2 separate regions of the Homo sapiens genome follow, and region 1 is linked to region 2. Evidence: fine-mapped expression QTL. A gene starts in region 2. The other region holds a variant in brackets. All regions are shown on one strand. Distances are from middle to middle.

The links. PIP is the estimated chance that this variant, and not a neighbour inherited with it, causes the effect. A credible set is the group of variants that fine-mapping cannot tell apart.
Region 1: its variant is the best candidate, but not a certain one, in a credible set for the expression of SLC28A1 in spinal cord (GTEx, PIP 0.60).

What each region holds. Positions count from the first base shown.
Region 1 is chr15:84,902,779-84,907,167 of GRCh38, forward strand. SLC28A1 (solute carrier family 28 member 1) reads left to right here. Exons shown (of 19, transcript NM_004213.5): 7 at 1,319-1,460; 8 at 2,761-2,874. Among named protein-coding and RNA genes, the nearest start is that of SLC28A1, 20 kb to the left of the region's middle. The variant A/G (reference allele first, on the strand shown) is at 2,493.
Region 2 is chr15:84,882,157-84,886,545 of GRCh38, forward strand. SLC28A1 (solute carrier family 28 member 1) reads left to right here and starts at 2,506. Exons shown (of 19, transcript NM_004213.5): 1 at 2,506-2,595. RefSeq lists enhancers at 1,585-2,085, 2,086-2,586.

The sequences.
Region 1 (4,389 bases), 21 kb after region 2:
GAGTGCCGTAGTGCGATCTTGGCTCACTGCAACCTCTGCCTCCCAGATTCAAGTGATTCTCCTGCCTCAGCCTCCCAAGTAGCTGGGACTACAGGCACCCACTGCCACGCTCGGCTAATTTTTGAATTTTTAGTAGAGATGGGGTTTCACCATGGTGGCCAGGCTGGTCTCGAATGCCTGACCTCAGGTGATCCACCCACCTTGGCCTCCTAAAGTACTGGGATTACAGGCATGAGCCACTGCGCCCAGCCACATTTGAGTTCTTATAAAGTCAGTTAACCTCAAGAGAAATAGTAAGTAAAGAGAGGTACAGTTGGCACAAAAACAAGGCAAAGATTGTGCATGTTGAACTGGAATGAGAAGAGTTTAAAAATATGAGCAGAAAGAAAAGCAGTAGGCTCTGGAATTAGCCTGCTTGAGTTCAGCTCTTCGATCTCCTGCTTATCAGCTAGGACCGGCCTGGATAAAACTGTAGTTAAGTGAATAGACCTTGCTTCCAGAGTGCCTGGGTTGAAATCTCAGCTCTGCCACTTTCTAGATGAGTGGCCTTGGGCCAGTTATTTAACCTCTCTGTGCCTCAGTTTCCTCATCTCTATCAAAAGAACATGTCTCTCGCATCGGTATAGTACCTGGCATATAATAGGTGCTCAATGAACGTTAACTGTCATTAGTAGTACCCAGTGAATTGATGACCGGATTGGGGTGAGATCTTGAGTACCTGATGCCAAAACCTGAATTCTCCCACCCTTCAGGGTGCATCCTGGACAAACAAATCCCAGCCCCAGGGAGGGAAGTGTTGCTGTTAAGGTAGGATCCGTTCCTTGGTCTCAGGTGCTCAGCTTGGAGGTCCAAACTCACATCACATGCTTCTAGGCATTTTGCAGTCATGGCTGGTAGTGTTGAGTCCTGGGTGGCACAGGTCCTTTCTCCCCCAAGGTCAGAGGCTGAGCTGAGCATCACTGCAGCGGTGAGATTCCTGTAGCTGGATGGAGCCAGGTGCTTGTCACTATGCTCAGCTTGGTACATATATCCCCTTATATAATCCTCTCAACAACCTTGAGAAATGAGGGGTCTCTGGCTTCATTTGACCCATGAGGAAACTAGACTCAGAGAGGCAAGGTGATCTGCCTGAGGTCACACAGCGAGGTCAGCCCTTCCCAGCATGTGGTTCCAGAGCTGGTGCTCTTTCCACTCTGCTGTGCTGTTTCTCCTCCTCCCAGCCCTGAGCACCCTTTCTCTGGGTCCCCGGGTGCTATTGTGTGTGGGTGGGGTGGGGGTGCAATGCTGAGGGTAATGGCTTTCTGTCTCTTGCCTGCAGGGGTCTAGCTCTTGCTGCTTTCCTGGGCCTGGTCCTGTGGCTGTCTCTGGACACCTCCCAGCGGCCTGAGCAACTGGTGTCCTTCGCAGGAATCTGCGTGTTCGTCGCTCTCCTCTTTGCCTGCTCAAAGCATCATTGCGCAGTGAGTGCTAGTTGTGGGGCCCAGGGCTGGAAGTGTTTGCCTCTCTCTTCTGCCCCTAGGCTGGATCTGGGAGCTGGGGTATAGGCAGATGTTCCTGTTGGGAGAGCCCTGGAGGCTCAGGGCCTGGAGAAGGCCTGTGTGTATCAGGATAGGCTTCCTGTGAAGAAGAAGTCTTCAAAATCCCCAGCAGGGATGTCTTTCCAGACTCAGAGGCCACCAGGACATTTGTTTCCTTGGTGACATGTCCTCTGGTCAGTCTAATCCTGGTCTTCAGGTCTGTAGGCTCAGGAACCACCTCCACCCCCAACCACAGAAAACACAGGCCAGAACTCCAGCCTGTCTGCAGAGCCAAGGGTTTCCTGGAATCATTAGCTTAAAATAGTGCTTCTCAAAGTCTGCTCCCCAGTCCAGCAACAGCGGCGCCTCCATGGAACTTGCCAGAAATGTAACTTCTTAGGCCCCACCCTAGGCCCACTGCATTAGAAACTCAGGGGCAAGGGCAGCAATCATCCTGTCAGCAAGCACAATTCTGATGTGTACTAAATTCTGATGTGTACTAAATTCTGATGTGTACTAAATTCTGATGTACACTCAGGCAGCCACGCACCCATTTGGGAGGGCCCTGCCATAGGCAGATGGAATCTTCTCTCTCTCTGCCTCCATAGCATAAGATCCCTCCCTGTTTCACAGTGTGGCTACCACCTTCCCCAGGCTACAGCCAAGCCTCCCAGGAGCTTATGATACACACCTGAGCTTGGACTCACTGCTAAGGAATTATTAAATGCTCATCAAGGAACAGCAACCTGAGGAGCCCAGCTCTTGTCTGCTAGGAGGGGCGTGGGGTGTGGGCATGGAGAGAGTCGGGGTCGAGGCGGCTGGGAGTCCAGCCTATTGGAGGAGAGATTGGAGACGGTCAGGCAGACAGGGTTCACACGAGCTGGGAGGAGCTGGGCCCAGAGTAGTCTGGTGCTGATCCTGAGGCCAGACCCCCAGGCCACATCTCTGGCAGTGATGACCAGGAGACGAAGTGCC[A/G]TGGCATGCCCAAGGCTGGTCCGGTTTCACCTGAGTTCTTGGTTAGAATCTTGGCCCACCCCTCCTCACTGCCCAGGCCCATTCCTACCAAGCACATGGCCTGTTCTGAATCCCAGGGAGGGTGTGACCACTGGCAACAGGCCTAGTACTCTGCCTGGCTCCAGCCCCATCCTCTGGGCAGGGCAATGCCCCCTGCTCTCACCCCCACCCGGCTCCCTGCCCATCCCTCAAGGAACTGAACTCAGCTTTCTGTTGGGTGGGGTGGTAGGTGTCCTGGAGGGCCGTGTCTTGGGGACTTGGACTGCAGTTTGTACTTGGACTCCTCGTCATCAGAACAGAACCAGGATTCATTGCGTTCGAGTGGCTGGGCGAGCAGATCCGGGTAGGTATGTGGGGTCTGGCTGCCCAGAGCATCTTAGATTACTGGGAGTAGGGGAGAAGCCACTTGGCAGGGGGAAAAGTGGGTGGTGAGGCCATAGAGAAGGCTTGGGACCTGGAGGGTGGGGTGGACTGGGGCCCCAGACCAGGTGGGCAGCTGGGGACCAGGCAGTGCAGCTGCCACTTCCCTCATGCCTGGTACTGAGGTCCCAATAGAGTAGTCTTTCCAGAGGCTGGGTCTGCAATCAGCAGTAACTTGGAAATTGTAATAGTTAAAAGTGCTAAAAAAAAAAACCCAAATCTGCAAATGATTTACTTCTGTGTGTGTGTGTTTAAAAATAACGTTTATTGAAGTTATACATTTTTGTTCTTTTTTTTTTTTTTCTTTCAAGAAGGAGTCTCGCTTTGTCACCCAGGCTGGAGTGCAGTGGTGCAATCTTGGCTTGCTGCAACCTCCACCTCCCTGGTTCAAGCAATTCTCCTGCCTCAGCCTGCCCAGTAGCTGGGATTACAGGCTCCCACCACCATGCCTGGCTAATGTTTATATTTTTAGTACAGACAGGGTTTCACCATGTTGGCCAGGCTGGTCTCGAACTCCTGACCTCAGACGATTCGCTTGCCTCGGCCTCCCAAAGTGCTGGGATTACAGGTGTAAGCCACCACACCTGGGCCCATTTTGTTTTGTTTTGAGACAGTCTTGCTTTGACATCCAGGCTGAGTGCAGTGGTGTGGATATGGCTCACTGCAGCGTTGACATCCTGGGCTCAAGTGATCCTCCCACCTCAGCCTCCCCAGTATTGAGTAGCTGGGACTACAGGTGTAAGCCACCATGCCAAGCTAATTAAAACATGGTTTGTTTGTTTGTTTGTTTGTTTGTTTGTTTCTTTCTTTCTTTCTTTCTTTCTTTCTTTCTTTCTCTTTCTTTCTTCCTTCCTTCCTTCCTTCCTTCCTTCCTTCCTTCCTTCCTTCCTTCCTTCCCTCCTTCCTTTCTTCCTTCCTTCCTTTCTTTTTTTTTTTTAGGTACAGGGTCTCCCTATGTTGCCCAGGCTGGTCTCAAACTCCTGGGCTCAAGTGATCTCACCTTGAGCCACGGTGCCCAGCCAATTCTGTTTTTTATTTTGGTAAAATATACATAACATAAAATCAACCATTTTAACCCCTTTAAGTATCATTAAATTCATGCACACTTGTTTTGCAACTATCATGATTTACTTTTGTCAAAAGAAAATTAGAACAAATTTAGTTTAAAGATCTTAATTGGCTTTTATTTGTGATTTTAGAATTAGGCAACACCTCATTCTATAAAAATAGAGTGGGTGTTCCGATGAGTTGAGTGGAGGAGGTTGGCTTTATAGACAGAGAAAGGCTGAAGAAAGCAGAAACAGAAAATAAATAGCAGATTGGTTGTTTCAAGGTCACTTTCCTTATAAAGGTCACAGCTGAGGGGACTGCCTGTCATGCTGCATTTGGGGATTTGGCTATCTGTCTCATTCTCCTGATTTTTTGGAAGGTCAGAAGA
Region 2 (4,389 bases):
GGAGGAAGTGTACTTTAGAAGGAAGATATAGCCTTTAGTATAAAACCTATAATAGACAGGGACATCACCCCTGAACCCAATAGCATAACATGAATTAAGACCCTTGGTTTGCAGAACATCTTGATCTGGATCAAACTGAAAAGGAACTATCTCAATTTCTCACTATATGAAAAGCTGATATGAGGCTGGGCACAGTGGCTCACACTTGTAATCCCAGCACTTTGGGAGACCGGGGCAGGAGGATCACTTGAGCCCAGGAGTTCTAGACCTGGGCAACATGGTAAGACCCTGTCTCTACAAAATAGGTAAATAAATAAATATTAGAACAACCAGGATGAAATTTTTTAAAAAAGAAAAAAAAATTAGCTGGCGTATGGTGCACATCTGTAGTCCCAACTACTCTGGAGGCTGAGGTGGGAGGATTGGTGGGAGGTCGAGGCTGTAGTGAGCTGAGATTGCGCCACTGCACGCCAGCCAGGGAGACAGAGTGAGACCCTGTCTCAAAAAAATAAATGAATAAATAAAATGCTAATATGAGCTGGAGAGGCAAGAGGAATAGAAGGTAAAAAGAACAACAAGGGAAATACACTTTTTAAGTACAATCAATTAAATATTAAATATTTGGGAACAGTGAGCTCTGAACTGCTTGGGTAAAATTCGCCCTGCCTGGTGGCCTTAAGCACTCCTGCAGGTGGGACCCGGCATCCTAATTCTACCAGGCCTCTTGTTGCTGCCGTAGATGAGCCCCAGACTCGGCCTTCCATTTTGTATTGGATGATGACCACATGTGCCCAGATGTTCTCAGTGAGTAGAGTGGGTCAAGGAGTAAACTATATCGGAAACCGTTGGATAATCATGCCAAGCAGGCTGGGGGCTTCCAGCCTTTGGGGTACTGGAATGCTTTCTTCCCCTGGGACCAGCTGAACTAGCTCTGTAGTTGCCGGGAGAGCAGTGTGCTCTAACACTTGGGCTAGTCCGTTCCCACAGGAAAACTAGAAGAGTCACAAGCAAAGAGTATAAAAGCCCAAGATATTTCTTTAGTCTTTGTATTTAGCTCTATGTCATCAATTTTTTTTTTTACAGGGTCTCACTCCTGTCGCCCAGGCTGGAGTGCAGTGGTGTGATTATGGTTCACTGCAGCCTTGACTTCCCAGGCTTAAATGATCCTCCCACCTCAGCCTCCTGAGTAGCTGGGATTACAGGTGCACGCCACCACACCTGTCTAATTTTTTCTATTTTTTGTAGAGACAGGGTCTCCCTGTGTTGCCCAGGCTGGTCTTGAAGTCCTGGGCTCAAGCGATCTACCTGCCTTGGCCTCCCAAAGTGCTAGGATTATTGCTACTTTCCAATATTTCTACTACAGACTACGGGAAGTCCATTTTTCAATGCCAAATGCAGAAGAAAAAGTTGTATGGATGCCCTTTCTGCCAATCATCCCAGGTTTAGGAGAGAAGAATGATGAGGTCATGTTCATGGAACTTGACGAGTGATAAGCCTCTTTATTTGTCCAGTGCTTGGATACACGAATCGATGCAATGAAAGAGACCTCGCCTGTGAAGAGCTAAGAAATGAGTGTGGGCAGAATCATGAGAAGAAAATAAAGAGATTGCTGAGCAACTCTTCTGACAGTTCTTGTGCTTTTTGAATGTTTCACTCACTACTTATAAAATAACCTATTATGTCAGAGCCTGGCGAGAAGGGATCCTCTCCAACTCTTTGACTAATAATTCCCTAAAACAGGAGGTGGCCTGCAGAAGAACTAAAACCAGAAAAGTTAGGTGGTTGCCTCTGAGGAATGGGATAGAGTTGGAGGGGTGGAGCAGCCCCTTTACTGTCAACCCTTCTGAGCTCTGCTGGATGGTGAGGGAAATTATCTATGTATATTTATGTGGTCCTCTCCCCACTCTGCCCTGGCCTGGCTCAGCTCTAGGTCTCACTCAGCGGGCGTCTGCGGGTGTGCCGGGCCTCAGAGGCTGTCTCCTTAGGAAACAGGCCACCAAGAAGCCCAAGGACATGCTGAGGTCCCACAGCTGGAGGGGCACAGCCGGGACACCTGAGGTCCTCCAGCTGTTGGTCTTTCCCTGGGGTCTCCACCCCAATCTATCCAGCCTCCCAACTCCCCAGCCTGTGGCTTTTTGCCACATTCCACCTGAAAAGACCGCTTGGCTTCTGGGGTCTGGGATCCCTGCTGGCCATGCCTCCTTGAGAGGAGGAGCAGGGGAGAAGCCCGGAGTCTCCTGGCCTGGAGGAGGGGAGCAGTGTGTCAGGACACCCCGGATGGGACCTGTGACAGCAATGACACCTGCCAGCCTGATGCCGCTTGACTCCCTGCCAGGTACTTCCTAAGCAGGAGCACGCTGACTCCTCATGTGCTCTATTACCCACCACCAGATGAGGCAGCAAGTTAACTTTGGCAGTCAGGAGTGGAGACCTTTGGGCTCCAAGCTCAAGGTCCACCCCAAGACACACAGCCCATTAAATCCTTGTTGTAGAGATTAGGGCCCACAACGATGTGAAGGTTATAAGCTGCACTGCATGGTTGCTGCTGGATGTGTTGTGTTCCTGGCTTCCCTCTGGATGCTGACAGAAACAAGGGTGAGAGAAAAGGACAGTAGGAGAGGAGGGAAGGCGGGACTGAAGAAAGGAGGGGAAGGGGGTAGCACAGGGCAAAGTGGAAAAGCAGGTAGCGTCCTTTTTTTCTTCACTAGGGCTTGGCGAAGACCCCTTCGAGGACAGCTCCAGGCCCATCCCTGTGGTGGCCACCCATGGAGACAGTAGTGCTGCTCAGAGGCATTTAGTTTTTGTTTCTTTTCTGTTTTTGAGGTAGAGTCTCGCTCTGTTGCCGAGGCTGGAGTGCAGTGGTGTGATCTCTGCTCACTGCAGCCTCCACCTCTCGGGTTCAAGCAATTCTCCTGCCTCAGCCTCCCGAGTAGCTGGGACTACAGGCACCTGCCACCATGCCTGGCTAATTTTTGTATTTTTAGTAGAGACGGGGTTTCACCATGTTGGCCAGGCTGGTCTCGAACTCCTGGCTTCAAGTGATCTGCCCACCTTGGCCTCCCAAAGTGCTGGGAGTGCAGGCATGAGCCACCGTGCCCCCCCTCTTTTTTTTTTTTAAAGGTAGAGTCTTGCTCTGTGGCTAGTTTTCAATCAAGGTAACACATGGGCTCTCAACAGTGTGCGGAACTCTGCTAGAAAAATCAAATTATGAGAACACTGTTACTGTGTGATCCCCTATTGGAAAATGAATAACATAAAATAACATACATTTAGGAAAAAAAAAGTGGAGAAAAGGCCAGGCGCGGTGGCTCATGCCTGTAATCCCAGCACTTTGGGAGGCCAAGGTGGGTGGACCACCTGAGGTTGGAAGTTCGAGACCAGCCTGACCAACATGGAGAAACCCCATCTCTACTAAAAATACAAAATTAGCCAGGTGTGGTGGCGCATGCCTGTAATCACAGCTACTTGGGAGGCTGAGGCAGGAGAATCGCTTGAACTTGGGAGGCGGAGGTTGCAGTGAACCGAGCTCGCACCACTGTACTCCAGCCTGGGCAACAAGAGTGAAACTCCGTCTCAAAAAAAAAAAAAAAAAGGAGGAAAATGCCACACAAACTCAATAGTGGTCATCCCTGAGGGCTCAGATTCCGGGGACTTTAACTTCCCTCATTCTGTATATTTCTCTAATGTTTAAATGTTTAATGATACACTTGTAATGCTTTGGTAATTCAAATGACAGATGAAGAAAAAATGTTTTCAAAAAGAGGGGGTGTCCATCCACCATCCTCTCCAAACTTCCAAAACAACCAGGAGGTGCCGGTACTAGCAAGTATTTATGCATCATAGAGGATTTTGTCCTGAGCGCGTACCATTAATTATTAAAGAGATGTTGTGAATCCCGTCAGATGAGTTTAATGTTTAGTGTGAGGACTGGAAAACTAAAGCATTCAGCCCTTCGCTTTGCACACCGTTGGCTTAGGTATTCATTTAACAAAGATGAAATGAAGGGGAAATGGTGTGATTTGGTTTTGTTTTCTTGACAGACCTGAAACACTTTTACTATTTCTCACAGCTACACTGCTTTCCTCATTTTCCAGCACAGGAAAATTGGTTGCTGTTATAATAAATCCCCATCTAGTGAGAAAGGGAGATAGAGAAAGATGCAAAATGAAAGATAAAATGCAAAAAGCTAACAGCCTGGCTGGGGAAAGGAGGCCATGGGAAGGAAGGAGGGGGAGGGAAATAATCACATAGGTGGCTTCCTGGAAGAAGCGGCCCTAATAGGCCTGGAAGAGGTCAGTTTGGGAACTGGGGAGAGGGCAGAGGAGGGCATCTCTGATGGAGAAGCAGCAGCCAGTGGGCAGGAGCTGCAGGGAGCCAGGTTGCAAGTGG